Regions from separate parts of the Homo sapiens genome. Here region 2 is linked to region 1. The links come from fine-mapping of genetic effects on gene expression. Tissue or cell type: prostate. Region 1 holds a variant in brackets; the other region holds the start of a gene. All regions are shown on one strand. Distances are between the middles of the regions.

Region 1 (8,000 bases):
CCCAGCTAATTTTTGTATTTTTAGTAGAGATGGGGTTTCACCATGTTGCCCAGGCTGGTGTTGAACTTCTGAGCTCAAGCAATATGCCCACCTTGGCCTCCCAAGGTGCTAGAATTACAGGTGTGAGCCTCCGCACCCAGCTCAATTTTCTTTCTTTTTTTTTAAAGACAAGAGTTTCGCTCTTGTTGCCCAGGCTGGAGTGCAATGGCAGAATCTCAGCTCACCGCAACCTCTGCCTCCCAGGTTCAAGTGATTCTCCTGCCTCAGCCTCCCAAGTAGCTGGGACTACAGGTGCCTGCCACCATGCCCAGAAAATTTTTGTATTTTTAGTTGAGATGAGGTTTTCAGCATGTTGGCCAGGCTGGTCTTGAACTCCTGACCTCAGGTGATCCACCCGCCTTGGCCTTACAAAGTGCTGGGATTACAGGCGTGAGCCACCGCGCCCGGCCACCCAGCCCAATTTTTTTGTATTTTTGGTAGAGACAAGGTGTTGCAATGTTGCCCAGGCTGGTCTCGAACTCATGGAGTCAAGGGATCCTCCCACTTCAGCCTCCCAAAGTGCTGGGACTACAGGTGTGAGCCACCATACCCAGCTTCCATCAGTCTCTTTATAAAATTAATTTTTAATCATAGGTAACTCTAGAACATATCCTCATATGTCTAATTGGGAAAAATTCTCATTCCCTCTCTTTTTCCATAGCGGTCCCTCTGATAAGTCAGACACGGAAACCATGAAGCTCCTACTGACTGACACGTTTCCGTACATATATACATCACTTGGCCTGCTGCTTTATGATTTTATCTTGTTTTGCTTTGCTTTTACGTGGATGGAGTCACATGGCGAAAGTCACACTTACTGAGAATTCTCATCCTTAGTTTTCATTTGTGAGCGTTCAACATGCATCTGGCGAGTTCTCCATTTTTTTCTGGCTGTACCACATTCCTTGTAAACAGATTCATAGGATTCCATGGTGTGGATAAACCAGAGTTTACTAAGCCACTCCCTGTCAGTGGGCTTTAGGTTGCTTTCTGTTTTCCTGCTTTTATACATAATACGATGGGGAGCATCCCTGTTTGTACTTTCTTGTACCCTTGTGCAGATGGTTCCTGAGGGTAGATCTAAAAACGGGAAATAGGCCAGGCGTGGTGGCTCACGCCTGTAATCCCAGCACTTTGGGAGGCCGAGGCAGGCGAATCACTCGAGGTCAGGCGTTCCAGACCTGCCTAGCCAACATGGTGAAACCCCGTCTCTACTAAAAACATAAAAATTAGCCGGATGTGCTGGCAGGCACCTGTAATTCCAGCTACTCGGGAGGCTGAGGCAGGAGAATCGCTTGAACCCGGGAGGCGAAGGTTGGAGTGAGCCAAGATCTCAACACTCCACTCCAACCTGGGTGACAGAGTATGACTCCGTCTCAAAAAAATAAATAAATAAAAATAAAAACTGGAAATAGGGCCAGGCACGGTGGCTCACACCTGTAATCCCAGCACTTTGGGAGGCTGAGGTAGGCGGATCACTACAGGTCAGGAGTTTCAGAACAGCCTGGCCAGCATGGTGAAACCCTGTCTCTACTAAAAATACAAAAATTAGCCAGACGTGGTGTGGCCCACGCCCGTAATCCCAGCTACTCGGGAGGCTGAAGCAGGAGAATCACTTGAGCCGAGGAGGCAGAAGTTGCACTGAGCTGAGATTGTGCCACTGCACTCCAACCTGAGCAACAGAGCAGACTCTGTCTCAAAAAAAAAAAAAAAAAAAGCCAGTGGTGGTGGTGCACACCTGTAGTCCCAGCTACTCAGGAGGGTGGGGTAGGAGGATCGCTGGAGGCCAGGTTGCACTCCAAACTGGGTGACAGAGTGAGACCCTGTCTCAATAAACAAAAAATGGAAATACCAGGTTGTAAAGTCTGGGTGATTATAATTTTACTAGCCTGACAAATTGCCTTCCACACGGGGACAACCAGCGTGCCTTCCCACCAGCAATAGCTCACTCTGCCCATTTCCCCACATGTGCCACAGCACTGGGAGTTATCAAGTTTTTTTTGTTTGTGTGTGTGTGTGTGTGTGTGTGTGTGTGTGTGTTTTAAAGAGACAGGATCTCACTCTCTCACCCAGGCTGAGTGCAGTGGTGCAATCATGGCTCACTGCAGCCTTGACCTCCTGGGCTCAAACAATCCTCCCGCCTCAACCTCCTGAGTAGCTGGGACTACAGGCACGTGCCACCACCTCTGGTGATTTTTTTTCATCTTTGCCAACCTGGGGAGGGAGGAGAGTGTTGTTCCATCTTGTGGGTTGCTGGTAAGGTCTTCCCTTGGATTTGGATGGGTGCTGTCACCTTGGTCTACGGATTGCCCCTCTGACCCCGTTTTGGTCTCTCTCTTACCCGCCACGCCCTGCGGCTTAGATATCTCTGCGACTTTACCTACTACACCTCTTTGTACCAGAGTCACGGTCGATCAGCCTTCGTCCACGTGCCCCCACTGGGGAAGCCGTACAACGCGGACCAGCTGGGCAGGGCACTGAGAGCCATCATTGAGGAGATGTTGGACCTCCTGGAGCAGTCAGAGGGCAAAATCAACTATTGCCACAAACACTGAGGGACGCTCAGGTCTCCTAAGACCTCATCCTGCTGGGGACCCCACGAGGGGACATCCACCCTCTGGGGTGTGGCCAGGAAAAGACAAGCTCTTCAGCTTGGGGATCCGATCTGGAAGAGAGATTCTGATCTGCCCACCTCCTCTTCCTCCTTCTCTACAAAAGCTCCGGTTGATTCGAGGGAAGTGGTGAAAATTTTTTTTTCTCCCATTTTCCTCCCTGCATCTGGGGACACAGCTGCCGTGACCAGGGAGGCCAGCCTGGGAGGTCCAGATGCCCAGGGAGAATCTTGGTCTGGTGAATCCATGAGCTGCGATACCACGGCTGGGGCCATATGTTCACCTGCTTTCCTGTCCGTTGGTGAAGGAATTTCAGAATTCATTTTATATCCAAGACTGGCTTTTACCAAATTTAAAAGCCTCTCAATGCGTCCTCGACCTTGAACTGTGCTCAACAGCCTGGCCCTTTCTGGGGCCACCCTGGGATATGGCTGGCTGGCTGGCTTTCTTTCTTTCTTTCTTTCTTTCTTTCTTGCTTTCTTTCTTTCTTGCTTTCTTTCTTCTCTCTCTCTCTTTTTTTTTTTTTTTAAATAGTGCTAGTTTGGGCACAGAGTAATTTATATTCCCTTTGGTTAAAATGCAGGCTTTTTAGCCAACAACAAAAGTGTTTTCCCCCCACCCCCACTCGCCCACCAGGGTGATGCCACTTTTGCCTCCTGCCCTGAAAATTGGACTTAAGATGCCATGTCTTGGCCAGGCGCAGTGGCTCATGCCTGTAATCCCAGCACTTTGGAAGGCCAGGGTGGGCGGATCACCTGAGATCAGGAGTTCAAGATCAGCCTGGCCAACATGGTGAAACCCTGCCTCTACTAAAAATACAAAAATTAGCCGGGCATGGTGATGAGTGCCTGTAGTCCCAGCTACTCGGGAGGCTGAGGCTGGAGAATCGCTTGAACTTGGGAGGCAGAGGTTGCAGTGAGCTGAGATTGCACAGCTGCACTCCAGCCTGGGTGACAGAGCGAGACTCTGTCTCAAAACAATTGGACTTAAGATGGCATGTCTTTGTTTTAGGGCCAAAAATGAGGCCCCCTTGCTTAAGGCATGGGGTCCGTGGCCAGGCAACGGGGTGGGACTGCTGCCCCAGATGTGGCCATGGGGGTCGTGGTCCTTTCAACACCAAGCTATGAGCTGTCGCCATGGAGACCAGGGCCACCTGTGGAAAGGCGGATTTTGTCTGCTTTTGACTTTTCTTTTTTAATATGTAAAACTCCACATCAGCGGAAA[C/A]CCCCCCCTACTTCTGGCCTGGAGCTTCAGGGTTTTGGTGCTGGGACGAGTTTGTTGTTCTCCTTAGCGGGGTGGCGCGGGGGGCTCAAAACGGGGGCGCGGGGGCTGGAGTTGGCAGAGCTCTGCATGTCCCGGCATGTCTGAGCAGGAGGAATTCCGGGCGGCCAAAGGGTTTTATGTAGATTGCTTTTGGACACTCGCCCAGGAGTCAGGAGTTGATTTTTATCTCACTTCCTGGTAACCTTGAACTTACCAGGCAGGGATGAGATGACGTAAACTTCCTCAGATGATGTAAGTTCAGCCACATCTTGCTGCCCATTAGGGAGAGAGGACGACCCCCACAGTGAAAGTAATTGAGTGAAATGCACGTTCTGGAAATCAGTTTCTATTTTGGCCTGGAGGAATGTGGCTATACTGCTTCCCTGAGTGTGACACAGTTGGAATCTAATCTTGTTGGTTTCCCAACATCTAGGTTTTTGTTTGTTTGTTTGTTTTTATGATAGGGTCTTGTTCTGTTGACCAGGCTGGAGTACAGTAGTGTGATCATGGATCACTGCAGCCTCTACCTCCTGGGCTCAAGTGATCCTCCCATCTCAGCCTCCTGAGTAGCTGGGACTACAGGCATGCACCACCACACCTGGCTAATTTTTAAATTTTTTATACAGACAGGGTTTCACCATGTTGCCCAGGCTGGTCTCGAACTCCTGGACTCAAACTGATCCTCCTTTCTCGGCCTCCCAAAGTGCTGGGATTACAGGCATGAGCCACTGCACCCAGCCCAGTTCTTTCTTAAAACAGCTGAGAGTTTTGTTTTCTTCAGCGTTCACCTTCCTTGTCTCCAGTTCCGATGCTGGCAGTGGTTCCTACCTCTGTTGGGTTTCTAGATAGTTTGGGAACGGGGTTGATGGGTTTCTGTGAAACACATTTTCCAAGTCTTGGGCTTTCTCTGGAGGGGAAGGTGGATGCTGGCGGGTGACTTGCAGTGGGCGCCTGGCAGTGGGTGTGGACTGTAACTGACAGGTGGAAATGAGTAGGGACACTATTGTTCCCTCCATGCCAGCTTTTTTTTTTGCTGGAAATGCCCCCTCCACACCCCTGGTAGCTCTGTGTCCTGAGAAATCCAGAGTGTGGGAGACATCACTGCATCTGTCCCCCCAGCTTCTGTGAAGGGAAGCTGTGGCCTCTTTTGAATGTGGGGAACAACTGAAGACTCAGGGGTCACCCAGAGGTCTGGTGGAAAGCAACTTCAGGTTTCATCTTGCTCTATTCCTCAAAGGTCTGGTCTGTGGGCCTCTGAGGAGAAAACAGGTCTAGCCAAGACAGGGACAAAATGGGGAAGGGGATGTGCCAGGCCTGAACTGAGCTAAGCACCTGCCCCGGGCTCCACACTTCCATCTTTCTTTTGTCTTCATTTCACCTCTGTGTTTAAAGCACTGTGTGACATAGCTCCTTAGAGATATAACCTATTGTCTGCTCATTGTCACGTGTGTGTGTGTCATCTTTGTATTCTTGCAGTGGTTTCACATTTCCTTACCCAGTCAAGCCAGTATCCCATCCTTCCTCATAATGCACAACATTTGGCTCATTTTATTTTTCTCATTGTTATTTTTTATTTTTATTTTTTGAGATGGATTCTCACACTGTTACTCGGGCTAGAGTGCAATGGCGTGATCTCGGCTCACTGCAACCTCCACCTCCTGGGTTTACACAATTCTCCTGCCTCAGCCTCCCGAGTAGCTGGGATTACAGGCGCCCGTCACCACACCTGGCTAATTTTTGTATTTTTAGTAGAGATGCAGCTTCACCATGTTGGCCAGGCTGGTCTTGAAATCCTGACCTCAGGTGATCTGCCTGCCTTGGCCTCCCAAAGTGCTGGGATTACAGGTGTGAGCTACTGCGCCTGGCCAAGTTTTTTACAAATATTTTTCTTTTGGTGGAACTCATCTGTGCACTCTCTGGTGTGTTTTTCCACCTTTGTTGGGTCTTGGCTTAAAATATCCTCATGTGGGCTAGGTGTGGTTACTCACACCTGTAATCCTAGCACTTTGGGAGGTTGAGGCAGGAGAATCCCTTGAGCCAGGAGTTCAAGACCAGCCTGGGCAACATAGCAAGAGATCCCATATCTACCAAAACATACAAGAATTAGCCAGATGTGGTGGTGCATGCCTGTGGTCCCAGATACTCAGGAGGCTGAGGCAGGAGGATCACCTATGCCTGGGAGGTTGAAGCCCCAGTGAGCCATGATCACACCACTGTAGTCCAGCCCGGGTGACACAGCAAGACTCTGTCTCAAAAAAAAAAAAAAAAAAAATCCTCATGCAAGAAGGGAAGGACCAAGTCCCATTCCCTCTTGCCTCATTTTCAGAGCCTGGGGTAGGGGCTACAGGTGGCATAGGAAGGGTCTGCAAGGTGGGTGGGACTTGGCAGGTGTTGGGAAGAGGAATAGGGGTGGCAAGTGTCAATGGTGAAAAGACAGGCTGAGGGGTGTGGTGGGAAGGCTGGGGGAGAAAGGTGAGAAGTGATTGGGGGGGCTTCCCTGATGAGTCCTCATGGAGGGTGCTGAGGCAGGGAACAGGGGTGCAGGGACAGTGATCAGGGCACCTGGTACCCTGACCAACTTGATGATGGCATCTCTTTTAAGATGCCCAAGTCTGCGCACTTTTATTCCTTTATTCGGCCCCTAGCACCCCCTCCCCACCCCAAAGAAGGTCAGTTGCATGCGTGTGGGGATGTAGCTCAAAAAAGAAATAAGATGGAGTGGAAAGGAAAGAAAGGAAGAAGCAGGAATTCAAGGTGGGTGGGCTGAGCTTGGGGCCACCTAGCCCACCTGCTCCAATCAAGGGCTGGAACAAACCTGAGGCCACTTGGAGAGGCAGGGCTGGGCAGGGACAGGGGGTGGGGGCCGAAATCACAGCTTCCCCATCAGAGCCAGATGTGTGAAGGAAATGTCCCAGATGGCAGTAGTTTCTCGGCAAGGAGGGGAATCCTGGAGATGGTTCATGTCTGTGATCCCAGTGCTTTGGGAGGCTGAGGTGGGAGGATTGCTTGAGCCCGGGAGTTCGAGACCAGCCCTGGGCAACATGGCGAGACCCCATCTCTACAGAAATTAAAAAAAAAAATTAGCCAGTTGTGGTGTCAAGCACCTGTAGTCCCAGCTACTTGGGAGGCTGAGTTGGGAGGCTTATCTGAGCCCAGGAGGTGAAGGCTGCAATGAGCCATGATTACACTACTGTACCCCAGCCTGGGCAACAGAGCAAGACCCTGCCTCAAAATTAAGAAAAAAAAAAGGGGGGCCAGGCGCAGTGGCTTATGCCTGTTATCCCAGCACTTTGGGAGGCCAAGGCAGACTGATCGCTTGAGGCCAGGAGTTTGCGACCAGCCTGGCCAACATAGCAAAACCCCATCTCTACTAAAAATACAAAAATTAGTCAAGAGTGGATGGTGCGTGCCTGTAATCCCAGCTACCTGGGAGGCTGAGACAGGAGAATTGCTTGAACCTGGGAGGCAGAGGTTGCAGTGGTGTGAGATCACGCCACTGCATTCCAGACTGGGCAACATAGCAAGACTCTGTCACAAAAAAAAAAAAAAAAAAGAATTCCCTGCTCTGCTTTTCTGCTCGTTGCTGGCATAGAAACATCTAGAACAGAAAGTATCCACTCTGGGGCAGATGGGAGAGCTGGAAAAGTAGATTCAAGATGCCTTTTAGTCTTGGAAGTTTCTTCCAGGAAGCAAGACCAGCTGGTATGTTTACACCTGCACTCCAGTGCCCTGGGGAGGTGACCAGGTGGAGGGGGATGGCTCATGGAAATCTGTCCCGCACAGCTGGCCCCCTTTTGGCTGCCACTGTCTAGACTGTTGGCCTTTGACCTCTCTGCCTCTTGTGGCGTCTGAACCTAGACGTCCCTTTTGGAGACAGCTGGACAAAGCCCTATTCTCCGCAGCCCCAGCCTCTATCCTGAGGCCTCTGGGAGCTGCGTGACGGCCAGCATGGGGTGCTGATCATGGTCAAGGAGGCAGGTCTTTGCCAGGTTGCCCCATGCAGCCACCCATCCTCAGCATCCTAACTTGAGGGGGCAGGAGAGGGCTTTGTTTTTATAATCCGGATTAAATTTCCCTTCCCTGGGC
Region 2 (8,092 bases), 25 kb before region 1:
TATATGCTCCCCTAGAGGTCTGAGTAGAGGAGCACTTCAGAAGCAAGCCACACCCCCATCGCCCACCCTGCGAGGGGAACAAGGGAACCTTTCCCGTTTCACCACCATGCCTGGCTAATATTTTTGTATTTTTAAGAGACAGGGTTTTCCCATGTTGGCCAGGCTGGTCTTGAACTCCTGGCCTCAAGCAATCCACCTGCCTCAGCCTCCCAAAGTGCTGGGATTATAGGCATGGGCCACCACACCCAGCCACAGTCATCCAATTCATAGAGACAGAAAGTGGAATGTTGGGTGCTAGGGGCTGAGGGAGGGGAATAGGGAGGGAGCGTTTAATAGGTATGGAGCTTGTTTGGGAAGAACAAGTTCTGGAGATGGATGGTGGTAATGGTTCCACAACAATGTGAACGTACTTAATGCTACCCAAGGGTATGCTTAAGATGGTAAATTTTATGTTATGTACATGTTACTACAAACCACTGCCCCCCAACCCCGGCCGAGGCGGGCAGATCACTTGAGGTCAGGAGTTTGAGACCAGCCTAGCCAACATGGAGAAACCCCATCTCTACTAAGAATACAAAAATTAGCCAAGCATGGTGGCGTGCACCTGTAGTCCCAGCTATTTGGGAGGCTGAGGCAGAAGAATGACTTGAACCTGGGAGACAGAGGCTGCAGTGAGCCAAGATCGTGCCACTGCACTCCGGCCTGGGTGACAGTCTCAAAAAAAAAAGTTCCTCCAAGTTGGGCATGGTGGCACATGCCTGTAGTCCCAGTTACTTGGGAGGCTGGGGTGGGAGGATGGCTTGACCCCAGGGGGTGGAAGCTGCAGTGAGCTGTGACTGTGCCACTGTGCTCCAGTCTGTGAGACAAAGCAAGATCATATCTCAAAAAACAAAAATATGGCCCAAACATGATTAGGGCTACGAGTGAACATTAGCCTTTACGCCAGTCACTGGGGCAGTGGGGCATGACTCAGTTTCTCCCCATCACTGCTGACTCTACATGTTTTCGTTCCTCCCATTGCAATTGAGGAAACTAAAATCCACTGTCACTTCCCTCTCGCCTTCCCTCTTCTAGCAACGCACATACTCCACACCAGGCACGTATGACATATTCAGGTTATAAAACCTGCCTTTGGGTGAGTGGTTTTTTTGTTTTGTTTTGTTTTTTTCTGAGACGGAGTCTCGCTCTGTCGCTTAGGCTGGAGTGCAGTGGCACGATCTCAGCTCACTGCAACTTCCGCCTCCTGGGTTCAAGTGATTCTCCTGGCTCAGCCTCCCCAGTAGCTGGGACTACAGGCACGCGCCACCACTCACTGCTAGTTTTTTGCATTTTTAGTAGAGACAGGGTTTCACCATGTTGGCCAGGCTGGTCTCGAATTCCTGACCTCAAGTGATCCGCCTGCCTCGGCCTCCCAAAGTGCTGGGATTACAGGCGTGAGCCACTGCGCCTGGCCAGGTTAGTGTTTTGATCTGCTCTTTTCTCCCTCTTGGCTTGGACCTCATTCCCTGGCCAGCTCAGACAGCTCTCTGATGTTCTGCATTCTACCTGAAGCTGCTAAAGACCAAAATAGCCACTGAGCGTGTGACCTGGGGTGTGGGCTTCCAAACAGGGCTCAGGGGCAGTCTAGAGAACTCTGCCCTTGGTGTTGGAGGAATTCGGGGGTGGAGCCAGTAAACACCATAGTACCAGCTGGGCACGGTGGCTCATGTCTGTAATCTCAGCACTTTGGGAGGCCAAGGCAGGCAGATCACCTGATGTCAGGAGTTCAAGACCAGCCTGGCCAACATGGTGAAACCCCATCCCTACTAAAAATGCAAAAATTAGCCGGGCACGGTGGCAGGTGCTGGTAGTCCCAGCTATTCAGGAGGCTGAGGCAGGAGAATCGCTTGAACCCAGGGGCCGGAGGTTGTAGTGAGCCTAGATCGTGCTATTGCACCCCAGCCTGGGCGACAGAGTGAGACTCTGTCTCAAACAAACAAACAAAAAACCATAGTGTCTTGGCGAATGATGGCAAAGTCAAAGTGGAACGGGCTATCAGTGAACCACACAGTCAGGAGTTCTGGCTCATGCCTGTTATCCCAGCACTTTAGGAGGCTGAGGCAGGAGGATTGCTTGAGCCCAGGATTTCAAGACCAACCCAAACAGGCAACATAGCAAGACCTCGTCCCTACAAAAAATATAAAAATTAGCCGGGCATGGCAGCACGCGCCTGTAGTCCCAGCTACTCGGGAGGCTGAGGTGGAAGAATTGCTTTAGCCTTGGAGATTAAGGCTGCAGTGAGCTGTGATCGCTCCATTGCTCTCCAGCCTGGGCAAAAGAACAAGATCCTGTCTAAAAAAAAAAAAAAAAAAAAAATTCGTGACCCAAGTCCAAGGTCCAGTCCTGTTTCTGAAGATGTGGCCAGAAACTCAGCTTTCATTTTCTACCTGTTTTTAGAGGAATTCTGGTCTCTGATGAATGTTGGCAGAATGTGCCTGGGGATGTGCTGGGTGTTGAGACGCAGCTCTAACAGAACAACGCTTCCTCCTCTAGAAGTTCTCATCTCTATGTCGGAGGAAACGGGAAGCCAACCAGAGAGGCTGTGACCATACTAAATGATTTCTGCTTAATAATACCTGGGGAGGGGGCCGGAGGCAGTGGTTCACGCCTGTAATCCCAGCACTTTGGGAGCTGAAAAGGGTGGATCACCTGAAGTCAGGAGTTCGAGACCAGCCTGGCCAACATGGTGAACCTCCCTCTCTACTAAAAATACAAAATTAGCTGGGTATGGCGGCACTCGCCTGTAATCCCAGCTACTTGGGAGGCTGAGGTGGGAGAATTGCTTGAACCCGGGAGGCAGAGGTTGCAGTGAGCCAAGATCACACCACTGCACTCCAGCCTGGGTGACAAGAGTGAAACTACGTCTCAAATAAATAAATACATATATAATTTCTGCTTAATAATACCTGGGGGACTAAATAATCTGTACAACAAACCCCATGACACGAGTTTATCTATATAACAAACCTGCACATGTACCCCAAAACTTAAAAGCTAAAAAAAATTAAAAATGATTTCTGGCCAGGTGTGCTGGTTTACACCTGTAATCCCAGCACTTTTGGGAGGCCAAGGTGTGCGGATTGCTTGAGCTCGGGAGTTCGAGACCAGCCTGTGCAACACTATGAAACCCCCATCTCTACAAAAATACAAAAATTAGCTGGGTGTGGTGCCACACACCTGTAGTCCCAGCTACTCAGGAGGCTGAGATGTGAGGATCAGTTGAGCCCTGGAGGTCAAAGTTACAGAGCTATGATTTTGCCACTGCACTCCAGCCTGGGTAACAGAGTGAGACCCTGTCTCCAAAAAAAAGAGAGAGAAAGGAAATTATTTCTGAGCTTTATTGCTATGAAGAGGATGGAACCAGGGAATGAGATGGAACCACTGGGGGGTAGCAGTGAGGTCATTTCAGCCAAGGAGGGCCAGAAGGAACCCTCAGAGGAGGTAATAGGATAGCAGGGAGGTGATAGCCAGAGAAGGCCACAAGGAGAAAGTGACAGTTCACCCCTCGGAGGAGGTGACAGCCAGGACAGGAGGAGGGCCCCTGGGAGGAGGCGACATTGGAACACTGGAGCTGAGGCCTGAAGGAGGCCAGCTTCGCAGGTACCTGCGGGGTGTGTTCCGGCAGAGGGAACAGCAGGTACAATCGCCCTCCCCCATTAGCCTCCTAGGACCATGGGGGCCTGCAGAGAAACTTCTGGCACCACACAAATATGGTTGTCGTGTTTTTCCTTTTTTACTCTGTCCTCCCCCACCCCCGCCAACTTCCTGGCCTGAATGCTGCTCCTGTGACCCCTTGAGGCGAGTGACCTCGGGGAAGTGGCATTCTGTGCCTCAGTTTCCTTATCTGGAAAACGGGCCTTGCTCGCGGGGACTTCCCTCCCTAATTCTGCGCAGTATGCATGCATAGGGCAGGCCCTCAATGAACCCTTGCAGAATAAAGGACCGGCTCATCCCCAGCACCTGGCTCAGTGCGTGCAAGCGGCTACACACTACGGCATAAGATGTTCCCATTTTGCAGACGGGGAAACGGAGGCTGGGGAATACCGGGCCTAGCCGACGGGGGCGGGGCGCAGGGCGCGCACGCTGCGTCTCGGGCCCGGGGGCGCGCACGCCGAGCGGCTGACCGGGGGCGAGGCCGGGGGCTTGACAGGGGCGTGGCCTCGCGCGGCCGAGAGGCTGCAGCGGCAGCAGCTGTCGCGCCAGTCGCAACAGAAGCAGGTCCGAGGCACAGCCCGATCCCGCCATGGAGCAGCCGAGGAAGGCGGTGGTAGTGACGGGTACGCTGGCTGATGGGGGCTGTAGCGGCAGCGGCCGGGGGCAGAGGCGGGGGCGGCTCCGGGACTGCGGGGCCGAGAGGGGCAGGTGCTGGAAGTCCTCTCAGATTTGGAAGGTGTCATCACCCGCGGGAGCCCCGCGCAGCCCAGGCTTCCTGGAAAGTGGAGGAGGAGGAGCCTTGGGGGTCCCAGGGTCGGGAGTCAGGGCAGTCGGGCGCGGGGCTTGGGGGGCCGGGCAAAAGCCCGGCGCTGCGCAGGCCCCCCTGGCGTCCTTTCCTCCCAAGGTGGGGATGGTGACCCTCCTGGCACCTGCCTCCTCTGTCTGGCCTGCGGGCTGGACTGGACCCTTCCTCCCTGCCCCTTCCGAGGTCCAGCCTGTCCCCACACCGCTCCCCCAACCCCTGGCCCCAGGGGACAAAGGCCGATTTGCGGGCAGGAAGTGTCCCAGTGACAAATGAACCTCCCAGTCACTGCTCGCCGCGCCCTGCGCTCCTGGGGGGCTACTCTCCCAAGGCAGGGGCAGGTGGGGGTCCGGGGACCTCGGGCTCTCCCAGCTGTCCCAGGGACTGTCTTCAGCGGAAACCTTTTTGTGTTTTGTGCCAGGGCTGTTTGTTGGTGAGTCAGGGCCCCTGCTGTCACCGACTCCCCCCCACCCCCAAACCAACTGTTTCTCCTCCCTGAGACTCCGCCTCGGGGCCACGTGGGGCGCCAACTTCCGCTGGGGCCTCAGAGTCAAGGAGTGGGGGGGTCATTTTGACCTGCTGTCTGGAGGGGTCAGAGTGGGAAATCCAGCAAAGGTGCACACAGGTGTTTTGTGGCTGTTGAAGGGAGATTGAGGCTGATCCAGGAGATTCAGGGAAGAAGGAAGAAACAAGGCACCTGCTTAACAGGTGTGTATAATTGGGAGGAGGGTCACTGCCCCCATCCCTTCCAGCCTTCCTTTATCTGGTTATTTATTCCAGCACTTTTTGCATGAGCTGATTACATCTTTACTGTCTCCATTTTGCAGAAAGGGAAACTGAGGCTCACAGAGGTCATCCAGTTTGTAAGGGGCTGAGCTGAGACTCAAACTTTGGCTGTACAGAAGGATAGAGTTAGGAGGTCCCCTCCTGAGCCACAGCCCCTACCTGCTATCCCAGGCTACAGCATCTCTGCATAGCATTCATATCCTGTGGGATCACTGGCCCAGATGGACCGTATTTTTTTTTTTTTGAGACGGAGTTTTGCTCTTGTTGCCCAAGCTGGAGCACAACGGCGCGATCTCGGCTCACTGCAACCTTCGCCTCCTGGGTTCAAGCGATTCTCCTGCCTCAGCCTCCTGAGTAGCTGGAATTACGGGCACGCATCACCCCATCTGGTTAATTTTTTGTATTTTTAGTAGAAACGGGGTTTCACCATGTTGGCCAGGCTGGTCTCAAACTTCTGACCTCAGGTGATCCGCCCGCCTTGGCCTCCCAAAGTGCTGGAATTACAGGCATGAGCCACCGCACCCAGCCCCAGATCTGGATTTGAATCCCAGCTTTTTCACCTTCTTGCTGTGTGACCTTGGGCAGCTAGCTTCACCTCTCTGTGCCTCAGTCCCTGCTCCTGGAAACTGGGCCTAGGAAACACCCTTGCCTGAAAGGGGATGTGGCCAGGCTTAATGCCAGGAAGATCACTTAGCACAGCCTTGGGCGACTGTCGTGTTTTGGAAAGGGGGCCTGGAGTTTGAGCTAGCAGGGAGGAGGGTGACAAGGTGAAATCTAGACAGCCTGGAGGGCTCATTCCTCATTTGGTGCCGATTCAGGGCATTTTGGGACAGTGACACAATAATTGTAGGTTGAGTCAAGGGGACCAGAGGAAGTGAAGACAGGATCAGGACCTTTTCGGAGGCAGAAGATACCTCTGGCCCCTGGCTGAGCATGAGGGGCAGGTGGAGGTGAAGACAGGAAGGGACTCATTGACTTCAGAGCGGACAGGTGCAGGACGGCGGCTCTGACGGGCCTCCAGGTGCTCCCAGAACTCAGGACCAGGCCCCCAATGTTGTCCTTGGCAGCTGCGCCCTGAAGCTCCTTTCTTGCTTCTCCAGGTGGGAGTAGCGGCCAGGCCAGGGGCAGACTGGGAAGGGCCACTCTTGGGTAATATATTGCTTTTCCTGTTTTTTCAGGATTTGGCCCTTTTGGGGAACACACCGTGAACGCCAGTTGGATTGCAGTTCAGGTAACTTAGATCCGGAGGGTGGGAGTCAGGCTTGGAGCTGGGCACACCCCAGAAAGTTATGGCATCCAAGAAGGTCCCCTTTTAACAAAAACTTTTTTTTTTTTTTGAGACGAAATCTTACTCTGTCACCCAGGCTGGAATGCAATGGCACAATCTCAGCCCACTGCAACCTTCGCCTCCTGGGTTTAAGCGATTCTCCCACCTCAGCCTCCAGAGTGGCAGAGATTATAGGTGGCTGCCACCACGCCCGGCTAATTTTTGTATTTTTAGTAGAGTCGGGGTTTCACCATGTTGGCCAGGCTGGTCTCGAACTCCTGACCTCAAGTAATCCTCCTGCCTCAGCCTCTTAAAATGCTGGAATTACAGGCGTGAGCCACTACGCCCAGCCAGCTCTTAAAAAACGATGTCGGATCCACATCTCTTCCTGGATGGTAACCACCGGAGCACACATCTGTTGAGTGTTTGTACCCCAGCGCTCTGAATCCTCCCAACAACCCATGCATAGTACGTGTAGTTATTCTTGTGCCCACTTAACAGAATAGGAAACTGAGGCCCAGAGGAGGGATGAAGGGAGTTCTCCGAGGTCACACAGCCAAGAAATGGGAGTGGCATTGCCTCAGAAGTGCCCCAGGCCCTGGCCAGCGGCTACAGATCTGGGTCTGGAGGGCCAGGTGTGGATATAAACGTAGCTGGTTTCCAGGACACAGCTGTTTATGTGGTGCTGGCGTCTACTTTACCTAGGAATTATCCAACTCTAGGATCTCCCTCTTTTTTTTTTTTTTTTTTTTTTGAGACGAAATCTCACTCTGTTGCCCAGGCTGGAGTGCAGTGGCGCGATCTTGGCTCACTGCAACCTTGCCTTCTGGGTTCAAGCGATTCTCCTGCCTCAGCCTCCAGAGTAGCTGGGATTACAGGCACCTGCTACCACGCCTGGCTACTTTTTTCTATTTTTAGTAGAGATGGGGTTTCACCATGATGGCCAGACTGGTCTCAAACTCCTGACTTCAGGTGATCCACCCACCTCGGCCTCCCAAAGTGCTGGGATTACAGGTGTGAGCCACTACCCCCGGCCAGGATCTCCCTCCTTTTTAAAAATCTTTTCCATTGACTCAGACAAATCGTGACTCAGGTTGGTTTCTGAACAGCCAAAGTGAGAATTCTCTGGTATGTTTTAGGCAGGTAATTCATGGTTCAGGAAGGACCAGGCAGGAATATGTGGGGTGGGGTGGCAGGGGAACATATCTTGACCTTGTAGGAAGGGGTACAGTGAGCCTCGCTGTCATCTCCTCGCAGCTGGGGGAGGAAAAGATGGCATATTAGGGGCCGAGGGGGGCTGTCATTCCTGGTGCCCTGAAGAAGATGCCAGTCTGCAAAACCTTTCTAGTTTCTTTTCCAGATGGAGTATTTTGTAGGGACAGGCTGGGGAGCAATGCACAGAGAGAAAGACGGAAGTGTTTTCTCGTTATATAAATCAGATCGGCAGAGACCAGAGCCAAACCCCTGTTTATCCTAGCCTATGAGCTGCCTGATTTAAAGTAACCTCTGTTCCCATTCCAGAATCCTAGATTTGGAGAAAAATC

What was found. PIP is the estimated chance that this variant, and not a neighbour inherited with it, causes the effect.
Region 2: it holds the start of PGPEP1, and the variant in region 1 is fine-mapped to the expression of PGPEP1 in prostate (GTEx, PIP above 0.99).

The regions. Positions count from the first base shown.
Region 1 is chr19:18,360,990-18,368,989 of GRCh38, forward strand. PGPEP1 (pyroglutamyl-peptidase I) reads left to right here. Exons shown (of 5, transcript NM_017712.4): 5 at 2,402-8,000. The coding sequence ends at 2,594. Among named protein-coding and RNA genes, the nearest start is that of GDF15, 21 kb to the right of the region's middle. RefSeq lists enhancers at 995-1,780, 3,930-4,224. The variant C/A (reference allele first, on the strand shown) is at 3,876.
Region 2 is chr19:18,336,400-18,344,491 of GRCh38, forward strand. It overlaps PGPEP1 (pyroglutamyl-peptidase I), which reads left to right and starts at 4,199. Exons shown (of 5, transcript NM_017712.4): 1 at 4,199-4,316; 2 at 6,460-6,512. The coding sequence starts at 4,283. RefSeq lists a silencer at 4,048-4,237 and enhancers at 4,069-4,756, 7,536-8,092.